Linked DNA regions of Homo sapiens. Changing the gene in region 2 together with the main gene of any one other region gives a genetic interaction. Each region holds a gene or a part of one and is shown on either strand. Other genes may lie near its edges.

Region 1 (4,447 bases), on a different chromosome or scaffold from region 2:
TGTAAAATAAGAGTTGTATAGAACTGAGGTCAAATCCTCGTTCTGCTATTCATTTGCTTTAAGTCTGTAGGTAAATTACTTATTCACATTTTGCTTTTCTTGTTTATAAAATGGGGTATATACCTAATGACTCAGGAAATTTAGGCAGGAGGATCACTTGAGGCCAGGAGTTCATAACCAGCCTGGACAACATAGTGAAACCCCATCTCTTAAAAAAAAAAAAAGCAGGGGGTGATAATGTTGACTTTAATGATAATCATGAGAACGTGAAGTCAGCAGATTAGTCCTTCATGAGATAAATTGCTTTAAAAATCTCTTCATTTTATGGTATTGCTTTAAAAATCTCTTCAGTTTGGGCCAAGCGCAGTGGCTCATACCTGTAATCCCGGCACTTTGGGAGGCCAAGGTGGGTGGATCACTTGCAGTTGGGAGTTCCAGACCAGCCTGGCCAACATGGTGAAACCCTGTCTCTACCAAAAATACAAAAATTAGCTGGGCATGGTGGCGCATGTCTGTAATCCCAGGTACTTGGGAGGCTGAGGCAAGAGAATCATTTGAACCTGGGAGGTGGAAGTTGCAATGAGCCGAGATCACACCACTGCACTCCAGCCAGGGCTACAGAGCGATTGGTTTGGACCACTGTAAGGAGAGTGACTCCCAGGTTTTCCTTTCTTTTTTTTTTTTTTTTTTTTTTTGAGACAGAGTCTTACTCTGTCGCCCAGGCTGGAGTGCAGTGGTATGATCTCGGCTCACTGCAAGCTCCGCCTCCTGAGCTGGAGATTCTCTTGCCTCAGCCTCCCAAGTAGCTGGGATTACAGGTGCCCGCCACCATGCCCAGCTAATTTTTTTGTATTTTTAGTTGAGATGGGGTTTCACCATGTTGGCCAGGCTGGTCTTGAACTCCTGACCTCAGGTGATCCACCCGCCTCACCCTCCCAAAGTGCTGGGATTACAGGCTTGGGCCACCCCGCGGCAATTCCCAGGTTTTCAACATCAGTAACTGGCTTAGGAGACCCTGAAGGAGGAGCAAGTTCAGTGGGGAAAAAACAAATTTATTTTTGAACATGTTGAATTTAAGGAGTTTGTGAGCAATTCATGCAGTGATGAGAGGTCAGTTAAATATGCAAATCTGGTGTTCCAATAAGAGATCTGGGCTGAAAATACAAATTTGGAAGTCTTTAGAATATGGGTGGTAATTGACAATATTGGAGTGCATCTGAGCATGTAGGGAGAAAGCTCAGAGTGAGAAAACAGAGGCCTGATAGAGTCCTGCAGACACTAAAATGTGATAGTTTCATACAAGAGGAGGAGCTTTGAAAAGAGCCTGGAAGTGACCAACGAGTTGGAGAAACCCAGGAGAGTTTGTGTTAAAAATGCCAGGAAAGAGAATGTCTCAAGAGAGTAATTGCTGCTGAGACGATGATTAGTAGAACTGAGAAGTGCCCATTGGTTTTGGTGAGATAGAGGTCAGACATTACCTTAGCACTTTTTGGGGACCAAGTCGAATCAAAGTATATTGGGGAGCAAAACTTTTCAAGCTTGGCCATGAAGGGTAGAAGAGGGAATGGAAGCTACAGAGGGGTGTGAGATTAAGGTAAAGTTGTTTTTATTTTATTCGAAGATATTAGAAATTATGTCTTTCATGAGAAAGAACTGAGTTTAAAGAAAGAGAAGAAAAAACGGTTATTAATAGTGTAGGTTTTTGGAGATGGGAGGCAAGGCTGGGAACCAGAGCAGCATGGTGGAGGAATTGGCTTCAGATGGGGGAAGGGAGAAAGAAAGTGTGGTGGCCGGGCGCCGTGGCTCACACCTGTAATCCCAGCACTTTGGAAGGCTGCGGCGGGTGGATCATCTGAGGTCAGGAGTTCGAGACCAGCCTGACCAACATGGAGAAACCCTGTCTCTACTAAAAATACAAAATATTAGCTGAGTGTGGTGGCACATGCCTGTAATCCCAGCTACTTGGGAGGCTGAGGCAGGAGAATCACTTGAACCCGGGAGGCGGGGGTTGCGGTGAGCCGAGATCGTGCCATTGCACTCCAGCCTGGGTAACAAGAGTGAAACTCTGTCTCAAAAAAAAAGAAAGAAAGTGTGGCTTAGCTGAGTGCAGTGGCTCATGCCTGTAATCCCAGCACTTTGGGAGGCCAAGGAAGGAGGATCGCTTGAGCCCAGGAGTTCAAGACCAGCCTGGGCAACATAGTGAGACCCTGTCTCTGTTTAAAAATGTGGCTTACAGTTGTAGGTTTGTAATCCAGAGGGAGGGCATGGCGGAGGTTCTCACCTGATGTCTTTTTCATTATGCAGCACCATCTGTCAAACATTAAGGATACAGCTGGAAGCTTGAGGAGACTGAGGAGCATTTAAATAGTTATTGATGTGGGATATTGAGCAGTATTGAGGGACCTGCTGAAGGCTAGGACCATGAATTTATGGTGGTTCCAGTCTGTGCTGTTATTTTTCTCCAGTAGCACTCAGCAGTCCAGATCAGGGCAAGGGAATTATTGACAGGAGAGTGACTGAAGTGATTGAAATGATACAGTGAGCAACCTAAGCATGATTTAAAAAGGAAAATGTGACTGGGCGCGGTGGCTCACATCTGTAATCCCAGCACTTTGGGAGGCCGAGGCAGGCGGATCACAAGGTAAGGAGTTCGAGACCAGCCTGGCCAACATGGTGAAACCCCGTCTCTACTAAACATACAAAAAATTAGCCAGGCATGGTGGTGCGTGCCTGTAGTCCTGGCTACTCGGGGGGCTGAGAATCACTGAGGAGAATCACTTGAACCCGGGAGGCGGAGGTTGCAGTGAGTGGAGATCGTGTCGCTACACTCCAGCCTGGGCAACAGAGTGAGACTCAAAAAAAAAAAAAAAGTAAAGTGACATGGAAAAGAAGGTTGTTAGAGATGAGGTGATAAACTGTGGCCATGCAGTGTTGAAGGGGCTACCCATGTGCACTTCGAAGTCACCAGGGTGACCCTAAGATGATGGGAATTGGGGTAGAGACGAAGAGTGGAAACCACTGCCAAAGTCTTCAGTGAATGAAGGAGTGACCATGACTAGGAAGGAGAGAAGTTAATCTAGACTCTTGGCACAGGTCTCAAAAGAGAAGGGAGTTTGCTGGTAGGCAGAAAAGCAGTGCTCTGAAAGCTACAGGGTGGGGCCCAGTAGGACATAGGTATATCCTGTAGGGATGTAAGAGAATGAGCAACCTCCACCAGAGGTCTGCAGAGAGGAGTGGTGGCCTCAGTGAATGACCAGGTTTCTGTTAAGGCAAGTCATGGAAGGAATGCTGAGTGAGGAGCTTGAGGATATAGATGAGTTGGCAGATTACAGAGCACGAGTTCCAGAGGGTGTAGGCAAGTGTTTGAAAGTAGAGGGGTTGGGCCAGGCGTGGTGGCTCACGCCTGTAATCCCAGCACTTTGGGAGGCTGAGGTGGGCGGATCACGAGGTCAGGAGTTCCAGACCATCCTGGTCAACATGGTGAAACCCCGTCTCTACTAAAAATACAAATATTAGCTGGGCATGGTGGCACGTGCCTATAGTCCCTGCTACTCAGGAGGCTGAGGCAGGAGAATTGCTTGAACCTGGGAGGGGGAGGTTGCAGGGAGCCGAGATTGTGCCACTGTACTCCAACCTGGCGACAGAGCAAGACTCTGTCTCAAAAAAGAAAAAGAAAGTAAAGGGGTTGAGGCGTTGGAAGACTGGCTCAAAGGAGAGAAAGCAGTATTATCAAACAGTTCAAGTGCAAGAGAGGTTCAATCATTGGAAGGGTTTCCAGAGTACTCTTTTTTTTTTTTTGAGACGGAGTCTTGCTCTGTCACCCAGGCTGGAGTGCGATGGCACAATCTCAGCTCACTGCAACCTCCGCCTCCCAGGTTCAAGTGATTGTCCTGCCTCAGCCTCCCGAGTAGCTGAGATTACAGGTGCAAGCCACCACGCCCAGCTAATTTTTGTATTATTAGTAGAGACAGGGTCTCACCATGTTGACCAGGTCTGTCTCAAACTCCTGACCTCAGGTGATCCACCCGCCTAGGCCTCCCAAAGTGCTGTAATTACAGGCATGAGCCACCGCACCTGGCCTCCAGAGTACTCTTTTATGGTCAGACTTTAGGGAATTGTGTTCATCATAACCATATTTAAGGACACAGAAATCTGGAGTTCATTCAGAGGAAGGGGACGAGGAATATTTTGATTCATTTTTTTTCGTATGTTTGTTTTGTCTTTGGAGATGGAGTTTCACTCTTGTTTCCCAGGCTACAGTGCGATGGTATGATCTTGGCGCACCGCAACCTCCGCCTCCCAGGTTCAAGCAATTCTCCTGCCTCAGCCTCCCGGTAGCTGGGATTATAGGCATACACCACCACATCTGGCTCATTTGGTATTTTTAGTAGAGACGGGGTTTCTCCAAGTTGGTCAGGCTGGTCTCAAACTCCCGACCTCAGGTGCT
Region 2 (4,447 bases):
CCCCTACCATCTCATATAGGGGAATAAACTAATTTCCTACTAAGTTATTACTTCTTCATAGAAAACTTAGAGCATTAGGGGAAAAAAGGTCAATAGTTCTGTACCTTTTATTAATCTTAATTGCATAATCCCAACTTTCAAATTTAAAAAGCTCAGAAAAAATTCCTGAGCAGTTAAGTTGCTTTATAATCTAATTGTTGGGGAAGAAGTTCTTGTTTCTAGGCTAATCATAAAAAAACTGGTAATGGTTAACACTTGAAAGATCACTTACTATGTGCCAGGCACTGTGCTTTACCTGTATTAATTCATTTAATTCTTACAACCACAAATGAACCCCTACATTCCTGTTTCACAAAGGAAGGGCCTGGTCTTAAATCCACATCTAATACTAAAATCTGTGCTCTTAACCACAGTGGTGTATTGCCTAAACGTCTTTGTTCTACGTGATTTCAAGGGATAGAATATAGCAGTTTATATTTCTACTAAATTTTCACCCTACAACAAATATATCCACTAATCTACTAAATACACATCTGCTATAAACAAATCTTTGTTGTGTAAGGCTCAGTTTCCAGATAAAAATCTTACTATGATCCATGTAGTAGATGAGAAATTCTAGAAATAAATGAAAATGTTCTGTCTGCCTTACCGTCAATAACAAATGCTTCAACATCATCAGCTCCAATCTGAAGTTCTTGCTGCATTGTGTCAAAAGAAATTTCCTTATTTTCTACTGCCATTCCCATAAAAGTAAGTAGTCTCATTTTTGCCATATTCTGTTCATGTAACAGGCCTAGAAAACAGAATAGTGAAGCCTGATGAGTGTTCATACTAATTAAAGACCTGCACAATTACATCTCATGTTAAGCTGTGGAAATTATTTTTACTTTTGTAATTGTGGAAATTATTGTTTGAGCACTTATATAGAACAATTTTGACAAAGCTTCTTATATTTGCAAACTATAAACTGACTCCACAGAGTATTAAAAACAATTTTTCTATAGTACCATAGGTGATAGATTCAAAGTTAAGAATCGGCCATAAAATGATTATTTTTAGACCCTAAAAGTTTTGCACATTTTACATTTTTAAATAGTTATACATTTTAGGAGATAAAATCTACAAAGTACATTTCATAAGAACAATTTCTATTTAGTTAAATTACCTAAGCTTATTTTTCACACTAATAGCTCTTCATTTAAACACAGAGGATTTCTTATCTACTTATTAGTTTTTTCTGTGTTACTATTACTGGTAAACCTGAAGTTTTAAAATACTTTCACAAACATTTTCAGTTATGAAAACATTCCATTTTGCTTCAGGTCACTATTTAAAAATCAAAACTACTTACAAACCAAAACTGTCAAAGTGTGTGTGTCATTTAACATTTATAGGCCAATACAGTTAGTACTAGATATAATTAAAGAATACCATTAAAAGTGATACTTGTTCTTTATAAGACAAAAGTAGAAAATTGCACAAATAATTCAAATTTTGCATTATAATTTCTAATGAAACATGCTGTTGTAATTATTCAAATAACAACAATGTGTTAGGCCTAGAAGAAAACTTAAGGAATTACCCAGTCCTGATCCTTTCACTTTAAAAACAAAACTGAGGAGCAAAGAGATTAAATGGGGACTTATAGTCAAAAAATAGCAGTGCTAGGCCTAGAATAGGTTCATTTCTAAAATAAAGGGCTAGAAATTTTAAAAATTAGGAATCCTAAATATATAACCTAGTCCTAAGTAGGAGCAGAATTCTAACATAATATCATATATACTTGTTTTGATGCTAACTTATTAATTATAAAACTAAGTTTCTAAAACTAATCTAGATTTACATGTTCCTTTTCTCTGAACTTTTGAACTATGTAAAATCAGCAAATGATCAATCAAGTGCCCTGTAATAAATTCAGAGCTTCAAGTCTGTATTGTTTAAAAAGTTCACTCTCTAAACACTCCATAAATAAATTTTAAATTTATAACATTCATATATTAGTGGAAGATTAGGGAAGCCCATTAACATAGGACATGATCATCTGTTAATTAGCTGTAATTATGATACAGGCTTCCTATTTGGCACAGATTCAACAAAAACATGATCACCATAACTCAAATGAATGAGGTATACAAGGAAGTATTGCTAACTGGGTTTAATGGAAATCTACAGGCGCCAAGAAATCAATTAGTGCACATTAACCCTAATTAACAATGCAAATTAGATGCCGATTAACTTTCTGAAGCAAAAGGTAGCAACTGGATAACACCAGATTACATGTGGACATGTTAGGGCAATTCAGTTGACACAAGATAATGCTACTGTTGGCCTAAGTTGTCAGTGTTAATAAAGGAAAATGTTCTGACAAACTGATTGCAACTTGTGGAATCTAGATAGTTGTCACTAGGCTTTCAGCTGTAATAAATGTTTAATTATAGAATTAAAATAAAAAATATACACATTAATATAAAGATGTTTTCTGAAAAGCATATAAACAAATTTCTAATAGAATACTGATTTGCATAGATGTTCAAGAAACGTAAGGCAAATGAAGGAATTTGAATTCTAGCTGGCACAATAAATTAGCAATGTTAACGAATTTTTTCTTATCAATGAATAAGTATTAAAGATTTTTTTCAAAAATTCCTTAACATTCTCAGTTCTATTGGCATGGACAGACAACTCTCTTTCAATATAAAGTGATAGAAACTTCTGAAATTTCTATTATTTTAAATACTCCTGAAATTAAATCTATTTTACTGCTTATCTTTTCTGCAGTTACAATCTTACCATAAATGAAAAAACTTATCAGAGGAATGAAGATTATTTCTAGGCTGAATTCCATAAAACCGTTATCTATTTTACATGTGAAAACTTGCATCTAAAAACACTTTAAATTGATGTTTAAAGTAACAAAGAACCAAACTTAAAACCCTTAGGACTCTTGTTCTGAAAAATCAAACTACTAAGGCAGTGAAGTATGAGTTAAAGACTTTGTAGGAAGCTGTGCTTTGTTTCATAAAACTAAAATACTACCATCAAAGAGGAAGTCACAGTGTACTGTGTCATATTTCAATTTTAAAGTTATAAAAAATCTAATTTTATGGAAACATTTATTCATTACTAATATGTCAAAACCTTAATGCAGTAATAAAAAAAGTGCATCATTGAGCAATTTCTGCATTGTCACTGACCCCTGTCTTAAAATGCTGCAATATAGAAAACCCAGTTTTAATGCATGCAATAGCTTATGAACCAGTGCTCCTTTGAAACAGTCAATTACACATCAATGGGGGAGTGTCAAAGTGTTAATTACTACTCCTTTTTCCTTGGTGCGTAAATAAAGAGGTTGCTGACATTAACATTCCATCACATAGCTTCATGCCACAAAACAAATTAACTGGGACAGAATGTGGTTTTCTGGGTCTAGTGCACCTGGCAAAGCTTTCTACACAAACACACTTACATCTACTTTATCTTGGTGTATTTCAAATGCCTTATTATGTTCAGAATAAGTCAATCTTCCCCAATTCCAATGGAGGCACACAATTTACAGGTGACAAGCATTAATGATTACCAAATTGAAGACTATCAAAATAGACCATACATTCATCTGTATCGTCAAGAACCAGGAAGACTAGTCTCAAAAACAAAAAAAAATTCAGTCTTAATATGGAAAATATAATCAATCTCTAATGTGTTTTGATTATTGCCTAGTAGGAGAACAAAGCACCTTAGTTTCACAGTTGACTCCAGTGTAAAGAAACTGGTAGTTTACAACATTTAAAACCTGTTCAACTGCAGATTTTCTGAGTTTTCTCTTTGTATTTTAGTATGTTAAAAACATGCTCCAGAAGGAAATTAAAATATTGAACATATGTAGGGTTTGCTCAATAAGGATGAATAAGATTTGATTCAATTTGACAAACATTTACTGAACTGATACGCTAGACAAGAAAATTCAAAGATAAAAATAATAAAGACTATGCTGTTTTCAACAAACGTAGTTAGAAAAGTCTTACTATCATGTAAAATTACATTTCCATTTCTAATTCCATCTTTCAGATCTAACTGGCAATACTATATACTTTTGTAATTTGTTAATGGCGGGGGTATCCAAGCATAAAATAGTATAGTAGGGGGGAAAAAACTATTTGTTACCATTCTGTGGCTATGGCTTAAAAAAAGGGACCAAAAATACAAATCACCATATATCTAAGGAATAAAGTCTTCTACAAAGAAACAATATTATTTTAAGAATAATGTTTAGCTTAATAAAGTACCTTTAATCATCAAATTTTATCAGCTCTTAAAACATTTCTGAAAGTTACCATTATGATCAAAGTAATGGTAATTCTTTCAGTTGCTTTTCTGCTCACTCCTCCATCTCTAAATTTTAAAAACAAATGTACCAATGGAACTATTTCTTCAATCTTCTCCAAACACC
Region 3 (4,447 bases), on a different chromosome or scaffold from region 2:
TATATATAGAAAGAGATAAAGAAAAGATACCCAAATGTTTTGGTGTGTATGGGTAATGAAACCATATATAATTTATACACTTTGAATTCTCTTTAGAATGATATAGTATAGCATAGGCACTGTTTTAATCTTCTAGCTTTTTAAAAAACCTTCGTTATTTCTAAAAATTTCCTTAAATTATTGGATTTTCAAAATGAAAAAAGAATACAAAGAAAGAATGTGTTACAACAAAATAGCTTTTTAGTGTTGTGAGATTTAGTTTCTTATTAATAAAAAGGAATATAAAGCACATACCTTATTTTCACAGGGCTGCTGTGAAGATCAGCTGAGATACATGTATAAAGCCATTATAGTAATATAAAGTAATAAAATGTGAAGTGGTATAGCATAGCACAGTACAGCGTGGAGCAATGTAATGAAACATAATTTAATGTCATTACCTGACAAACATTGATGAAATCAGGTTTCTCCAAGTTCATGTAGATTTTAACTAGAACTCTTAGTACTTTATTCCGAAACTGTTTATTCTGCATTAAAGACATGCAGAGCTTAAGGCTATAAGCTAACATTCCTGGGACATCATTCTGAAAGAGATAGTTTAAAGATATAACGTTATCTGGTTATTGCAGCATTATATTTATTTAGAAATTGAATTATTTTAATCTTGCTTCTTTAGCCAATCTAGGAAGCCAATTATTTAGACCTCTTAAGCAATACAAACTCAAGAATTTTAAACCATTTTAGATGAAAATCTTAAAAGAATTACATATTTCCACATCATCATAAAAAATGGATTAAAAATAATATTTAGTGGTACTCAGAATCACTATTACATGAACATAGTATACTATAATAAAGTGATGCTGTTAATTATTATAAAAGATATACAACTGTCCATACACTAAGTAGCTATGTTTTCCAAATGTGTCTGCTGAAGTCTTTCTGCTTCTTATCTTGCTACTAGACTCCCTCATGACTTACTGCCTACACTCACTTGCTGGCCAGGAAACACAACACAGCTCTCAGTGACTCAAGCATTGAGTACTGCCACATCTGTCTGGTGCTCTCCCTACAAGAAAACTTTGATCCAGGCTCTATGTGTTTACTTGGTGATTCTCAAAAGTATCCCCAATATTTGAGACTTCACCCTGTAAAAGGCCTTCAACATAAATTAGCACACTGAAAGCTACAGGAGTGTTTCTCAAAAAGTGAGTTGTGACTTTCCACTGCGTAATAAAATCAATTTAATGAAGTGTGACTAGCAAATTAAAAAAATAAAAAATACAATTTAAAAATAACAGAGTTATATCACAAGTAGTAAGAGTAGGTATTAGTTTCATAAAGCTTAAATTACATCTATATGTATATGTGCACTGGGATACAAAGAAAGATGCATTTGTTACTCTGCTTTTTTTTTTTTAAAACATTTTTCATTCTTTTACTTTATATATTTATTTGTTTGACTGCTTGTTCTCCTTCTAGATTCCCCAATGAAGTGTTTGCTTTGGGCAGGAACTTTGTTGGTCTTGTTTGCTACTATAGTAGGTGCTCCTTTATCTGAGAGGACTATGTTCCAGCACCCCCAGCAGATGCCTGAAACCACAAACAGTACCAAACTCTATATAAATTATGCACAAATTTCTGTTTTCTTCTTCACAATTTTATGGATGGAAGATTCATTCTTATGTACATCTCAGCGCAGCCTCAGCACAATTTTTTTTCTTTCCTTATTAAGTTGGGAATTTTCACTTTTTCAATTAAAGGAAGCAGTTTAAGGCTTCTCTTTAGCATATCTAAATTGCCAACATCACTATTTTTGTACTTTGAGGCCATTACTGAGTAGAATAAGGGTTATCTGAACACAAGCACTGTGATATTGCGACAGTCAATCTGATAAGCAAGGTGGCCACTAAAGTGACTAATAGGCAGTGTACACAGCATAGATCTACTAGGATGATTCACATCCCATGCGGGATGGAAAGAGATGGTGAGAGATTTCGTTGTGCTAGTCAGAATGGTGCACAATTTAAGACATGAATTGTTTATTTCCGGAATTTTCTATTTAATATTTTCAGTCTGTAGTTGACTGCAGGTAACTGAAACCACAGAGAGCAAAACCATGGATGAATGGGGACAATGCACATCTCCAATGCCTAGAACAGTATCTGGCAAACAGTAAGCACTGAAAAAATATTTGTTGAATAAATGAAAGCCAAAAATGTAATCTTACACACACGAAGACAAGGATGGGCTAAAACTGCACAAAAATGAAATTGAGAGGGAAACAAGGGCCATTATATCACATTAGGCCATTCATTCATTCACTCATTTAAACAAATCGTATTATCGACGCTAAACACTGTGTTAGGTTTTGGGGATACAGTGGTGAAAAAGGCACAAATACCTGTCCCGATATAGCTTATGATCTAGTGGGAAAGACAGCTATTAACTATCTACTAATACAATTATCAAGGGATAAACACCATGAAAAAATGTACAGGGCTCCATAAGATTAACAACAGAACTGGACCTAGTCTTTGCTTAGGGGCTGAGGAAGGCATGGGTATTGGGATCAAAGTTCTGCAAACAAGGGATAGTTGAGCTAAGTTTTGGATTGTGAGGAGAAATAAAGCAGGCAAAGAAAGGAATGGAGGGCAGGTGTGGTGGCTCATGCCTATAATCCCAGCACTTTGGGCGGCTGAGACGGGTGGATCACTTGAGGTCAGGAGTTTGAGACCAGCTTGGTCAACATGATGAAACCCCAACTCTACTAAAAATACAAAAATTAGCTGGGTGTGGTGGCACACGCCTGTAATCCCAGCTATTCAGGAAGCTGAGATGGGAGGATTGCTTGAACCCCGGAGGCAGAGGTTTCAGTGAGCCAAGATTGCGCCACCGCACTCCAGCCTGGTTGACAGAGCGAGACTCCATCTCAAAAAAAAAAGAAAGAAAAAAGAAATGTAAAAAATATTTTTGGAAGGGGGAACGAGGCAGGGTTCATCTAGATGAGAAGATACCAAAATGGCTAGTGTACAGAGAGCTAGCTCATGGAAAGAAATAGCTGGTGAGGCAAAGTAAGCCTGCAGATCAATGTCCATTTTACTCAGCTTTGTACCTTTCTGACCACTTCGGTTGGTGACTTAAATTGTCTTAATTATTGCAAACACCGCAAACCAGGAATCTAGCTGAGTAGTTTTAACCCTAATAAATGCATTAAAATATAGTTTATTGTCTTCTTAAAAAGGGCAGAGTAATTAATACAACTTCCCCATGCAAGACTTCAAAGGATTATGTGGTAAGATAAAAGCAGATATTTCATGAACACAAAACACAACCAAGGTTCATACATAAATATGAAAATAAAATATTTGGCAAAAGATCACCTGCTATTTCTAAACTAGATTTTCTTTTCACTGCCTATGAAAGTTTCAGTTTGAATAACTTGCTTTGCTGATTCCCTATCAACAATAATTTCTAAAATAACATCATCTACCTACCGACTCCAGTATGGTCTTTTCAAAGACGTCCAGTCTTCGTGTCTCCAGAGCAATGCCAATAGCCTGTTTATACTTGTGATCATCTAGACATCGCTGGAACATTTTATTTACGATGCCTTCCAATCTCTGGTCAATTGGTTTTTTTTCTCCTTCAGGCAAATCTGCATTTTCCACACATTGTTTGGTGTAGTGATCAATGCATTTTGCTGTTGAGGAAATAAAATAACTGATTATCTTGTAAATTGGGCTAAACTATCAGAAAGGGCAATGCCTATATTTATAATCATATATACTTATGGGATGACTATAAAGCAATAAGCAAATTTTGAAATGCTAGAACTTATGCATTTGAATACTGTTCTCCCATAATATTTACACCGGAGAACTACACATTAATTCCAATCCAGTTGACATTATTCAAAACATTTCTATCTGCCAGGTGTGGTAGTGCTCACCCACAGTCCCAGCTACTCGGCAGGCTGAGGCAGGAGGATCACATGAGCCCAGGAGTTCAACGCCAGCCTGAGCACCACAATGGGACCCTGTCTCTTATTTAATTTATTTTTAAAGTTTCTATCTTGTTACTCCATTTTGATCAAAATTTTATTACTCTACCCGATTAAGCTGCTTATTCAAAAGAACTGGCTACAAATAGCTGCTGCTTCACTTTCAAAAAACAAACATTTGCCATTACTGAAGATATTTTAAAAGGCCTATTATAGCAATTATCACATAGTAGTATATCGGACTTCTTTGCATTAATGAAACTATTAGCAACCTGAGAGTAAGAACTATGTCTAAATTGTCTCTGTAGGGTAATGGGGAAATGACTTGAAATGTGCCACAAGTTTAAAAGGCAGTTCCAAAGATTTCCAAAAACTTTTCCAGCAACTGTAGCAGATCCTTTGAAAAACAGTCCTGTGTCGCTTAATGACAGTAATACATTCTGG
Region 4 (4,447 bases), on a different chromosome or scaffold from region 2:
CAGCCACATGAGTAGCTGGGACTACAGGCACGCACCACCACGCCCAGCTCATTTTTGTATTTTTAGTAGAGACGGAGTTTCAACATGTTGGCCAGGATGGTCTCGATCTCTTGACCTCGTGATCTGCCTGCTTTGGCCTCCCAAATAGCTGGAATTAGAGGCGTGAGCCACTGCGCCCAACCTTAATCTTTATCTTTAAGAACAGTTAACACATTCATGTGGTTCAAAATTCAAAAGGCACAAAAAAGATAAGCAGTGAGAAGTCTCTCTCTTACCTCTGTTCCTTGGCCATCCAGTTTCCGTCCCCTATAGTAAATTCATATTACCAATTTCTTTTCTAACCTTCCAAAGATACCCTAAACTTACATGAACATATATATGTGTATTAGTCTGTTCTCACACTGCTAATAAAGACATTCCCAAGACTGGCTAATTTATAAAGGAAAGAAGTTTAATTGAGTCACAGTTCCAGATGGCTGGGGAGGCCTCACAATCATGGCGGAAGGCAAAGGAAGAGCAAAGACACATCTTTCGTGGTGGCAGCCAAGAGAGAAAATGAGAGCCAAGTGAAAGGGGTTTCCCCTTATAAAATGATCAGCTCTCGTGAGACTTATTCACTACCATGAGAACAGTATGGGGGAACCGCCCCCATGATTCAAGTATCTCCCACTGGGTCCGTCCCACACCACAAGAGAATTATGGGAGCTACAGTTCAAGATGAGATTTGAGTGGGAACACAGCCGAACCATATCAACATGCAATATTTGTTTCTTCCCACCTCCTGGTTTTTTAAAACTCAAATGGTAGCATGCTGTGAAGCTGTTATTTACCTTGCTTTTTTAACTCAACAGTATATTTTTTAAAGTGTTTTTTAGTTCACATCTTTTTAATGTCTGTATGTTTTGTTCCACATGTGAAAACATGCGCAACATCACTAATCATTAAGTAAATAAAATCAAAACCATGATGAGATACCACCTCACACCCATTAGGATGCCCACTGTCAAAAAACAGAAAATAGCAAGTATTGGCAAGTACGTAGAGAAATTGGGACACTTGTGCACTCTTGATGGGAATGTAAAATGATGCAGCCACTATTGAAAAATGGTATTGCAATTACTGAAAAAATTAAAAATAGAATTACCCTATGATCTGGTAATACCACTTCTGGGTATTCTGAAAGAATTGAAAGCAGGGTCTGAAAGATACTTGCACAGCCACATTCATAGGAGGATTATTCACAGTAGCTAAAAGATGGGAGCAACTCAGATGTTGGTTGATGGATGACTGGATAAACAAAATGTGGCATATACATACAATACAGTATTATTCAGCCTTAAAGAAGAAGGAAATTCTGACACATGCTAAAACATAGGTGGATCTTAAGGACATTAGGGCAAGTGAATTAAGCCTGTCACAAAAAGACAAATACTATATGGTTTTACTTATATGAAGTATGAAGAGTAGTCAGACTCATAGAACTAGAAAGTAGAATGACGGTTACCAGGAACTGGGGGGAGGGCGAAATTGGGAGTTGTTAATGGGTGTAGAGTTTCACTTTTGCCAGTTGAAAAAGTCCTGCAGATTGGTTGCAGAATAGTGTTAATATCCCCAACACTATAGAACTGTGCATTTTGTAATGGTTAAGATGGCAAATTTAATGTAATGTGTATTTTACCCTAATTTAAAAAAATCCATTGTAAGATTCATAATTGATGTGATCAATTCCTTACAAACGATCATTTAGGTATTTAGGTTGTTTCTAGTCTTTTGTTATTCTAGGAAATGCTACAATCAATAATGTTTTAGATTCTCTTATAACTGTTAGAACTTTGTAGTAAGTTCCTCTCTCATCGTTCTTTCAGGGGTCAAGTCCTTCCTGCTCATACACTTCTGAATACAGTAGATGTTGAACTTATCTATGAGGGAGTCAAGTATGTACTTAAGGTATGCAGAACCCCATTGGAGCTTGCACCTTACTTTTTTAGCTATCTTTCTTTAGGTTGAGAGGCAGGAGAAAAAGTTTGATTTAATGCAGGGATGGGGGTATTAGTGAAATTACCGTCATTATTTTTGTCAGTGTCCTGAAGCAGCGTTTGTTGTTCTATGAAAATCTTTTTTGTTGTTCTTCAACTTCACATACACTGCCAAGAGATAAAGGAGAGACAGAGAACAACCACAGTTGGGGAAAATCAACTAAGGTTGCCCTCTTTGCTTACAGCAGGACTGAGCCATGTCCACAGACACTGATGCAAATAGCATCAGTGCCATGAATTTTCTTCCTCCTGACAGATCTTTCTTATCTGTATTTTTGAAGCATTCAAATTTCATTTGGAGCTGTACCTGGAAGGGACACACTGATCCTCATTCTCATTCCCTACAGGTGACTCGACAGTCCCCCAACTCCTATGTGGTGATCATGAATGGCTCATGTGTAGAAGTAGATGTACATCGGCTGAGTGACGGTGGACTGCTCTTGTCCTATGATGGCAGCAGTTATACTACGTATATGAAAGAGGAAGTGGATAGGTAAGTGGCTGTTTGAGGTCCATTTGCTGGTCATCCTGTTAGCCTTTTCTCTTATTAGCTACTAGCTCTTGGGATTTTCCCAGGCTTTTCTTGGTACTCATTTGTAGTTAAAAAAAAAAAAAATAGTACATGCACTTAACAAAAATATCAAGAGTATTAAAGTGTTTATAATTAAAAACATGTCTCCCTACCACTCCAGTGTATGTGGACAATGAAAAATAAGTTCCCCTTTTTATAAGTAACCATTGTTAAAAGTTTCTTACATATTTGAGTAGAAATTTTATATGCATATACAAGTTACACTCATGTACATACTGTTTTTCTTTAAATACATTCACAAATGTGGCTGGGCGCGGTGGCTCACGCCTGTAATCCCAGCACTTTGGGAGGCCGAGGCAGGTGGATCACCTGAGGCTGGGAGTTCAAGACCGGTGTGGCCAATGTGGTGAAACCCTGTCTCTACTAAAAATACAAAATTAACCAGATGTGGTGGCTTATGCCTGTAGTCCCAGCTACTTGGGAGGCAGAGGCAGGAGAATCACGTGAACCTGGGAGGTGGAGGTTGCGGTGAGCCGAGATCACGCCATTGCACTCCAGTCTGGGCAACAAGAGCAAAACTCCGTATCAAAAAAAAAAGAAATTCACAAATGTTCAACACCAGTTATGGTGTTATGAGAATGAAATAAATTAACATGTTGAAAATGTGTAGAACATTGCCACAACATAGCTAGGCTTCAAGAAATGTTAGCTATTACGTCATCAATATCTTTGTGTGTGTTTTTTTAAATGGTGGTACCTGTTATTTTTAATAGTCATGTGGTATTCCATTATATGATTATACTATATTTAATCTGATCCTTATTGAAGGAAATTTATGTTAATTGACATTGTAAACAAATATGCAGTGAATATGTCTGTGTGTGTGTATAATAAAGTTTTCAGGATTTTTTTTCTTTGAAGGTTGACATTCTCTACCATTCTCCTTTACATCCTGAGGTGCTTTCTTAGCTTACATACTTCCACTTGTCTCCTAGATATCGCATCACAATTGGCAATAAAACCTGTGTGTTTGAGAAGGAAAATGACCCATCGGTGATGCGCTCACCTTCTGCTGGGAAGTTAATCCAGTACATTGTAGAAGATGGAGGTCATGTGTTTGCCGGCCAGTGCTATGCTGAGATTGAGGTCAGGGTGGTGAAAGGACTGTGGGATCATGGGAGGGGAAGGTAGGAAAAGGGTCGGCTGGGATGGACTAGGACTGAAAAGTTACAGAAAGGAGGCTGGGCACAGTGGCTTGTGCCTGTAATCCTACCACTTTGGGAGGCTGAGGCAGGAAGATCGCTTGAGCCCAGGAGTTCGAGACTAGCCTGGGCAAGATGGTGAGACCCCATCTCTATGAAAAATTAAAAAATTAGCGGCGTACAGTGGCACATGCCTGTAGACCCAGCCACTCTGGTGTCTAAGGCGGGAGGATCCCTTGAGCCCAGGAATTCAAGGCAGCAGTGAATGGAGATTGTACCACTGTACTGGAGTGGTACAATTTGTGGCCTGCGTCACAAATCAAGACCCTATTTCTAAAAAATTAAAAAAAAAGGTAACAGATTGGAAATAAGAATGAAAAAGAAACATCAGTTGGCTTAATTAGAAGTGCGAACCTTAAGATTTTTAAAACACATAGGCAAATGAGGAATCTCTAGTTCTAAAAATAGATACTAGGCAATAGCACTTGTTGAATGTTAGGTGTCCTAACTGCTGGCTATCCAGAGAAAATACATGGAGGTGGGGCACAAAACAGACAAGAAATGTCATGTGATTAATTTTAAGAGAGCTAAGCATAGAGTGCAGAGGGTCACCTAACCCAAATCAAGCTAAGCTTGTATGGGAAGATATTCTGAAAGAAGAGACATTTGATCTTAGT

The links.
Region 1: changes in EIF3M (region 2) and VPS72 together harm fitness more than expected from each alone (negative genetic interaction), as found in Homo sapiens cells (one large-scale study listed by BioGRID).
Region 3: changes in EIF3M (region 2) and PSMD1 together harm fitness less than expected from each alone (positive genetic interaction), as found in Homo sapiens cells (one large-scale study listed by BioGRID).
Region 4: changes in EIF3M (region 2) and ACACA together harm fitness more than expected from each alone (negative genetic interaction), as found in Homo sapiens cells (one large-scale study listed by BioGRID).

Annotation. Positions count from the first base shown.
Region 1 is NC_000001.11:151,179,670-151,184,116, reverse strand, and holds part of VPS72 (vacuolar protein sorting-associated protein 72 homolog), read left to right. Parts: intron 1-4,447. UniProt on the Homo sapiens protein: Deposition-and-exchange histone chaperone specific for H2AZ1, specifically chaperones H2AZ1 and deposits it into nucleosomes.
Region 2 is NC_000011.10:32,597,035-32,601,481, reverse strand, and holds part of EIF3M (eukaryotic translation initiation factor 3 subunit M), read right to left. Parts: intron 794-4,447; coding exon 650-793; intron 1-649. UniProt on the Homo sapiens protein: Component of the eukaryotic translation initiation factor 3 (eIF-3) complex, which is required for several steps in the initiation of protein synthesis.
Region 3 is NC_000002.12:231,066,162-231,070,608, reverse strand, and holds part of PSMD1 (26S proteasome non-ATPase regulatory subunit 1), read right to left. Parts: intron 3,704-4,447; coding exon 3,498-3,703; intron 585-3,497; coding exon 441-584; intron 1-440. UniProt on the Homo sapiens protein: Component of the 26S proteasome, a multiprotein complex involved in the ATP-dependent degradation of ubiquitinated proteins.
Region 4 is NC_000017.11:37,246,093-37,250,539, reverse strand, and holds part of ACACA (acetyl-CoA carboxylase 1), read left to right. Parts: intron 1-1,865; coding exon 1,866-1,947; intron 1,948-2,383; coding exon 2,384-2,529; intron 2,530-3,563; coding exon 3,564-3,714; intron 3,715-4,447. UniProt on the Homo sapiens protein: Cytosolic enzyme that catalyzes the carboxylation of acetyl-CoA to malonyl-CoA, the first and rate-limiting step of de novo fatty acid biosynthesis.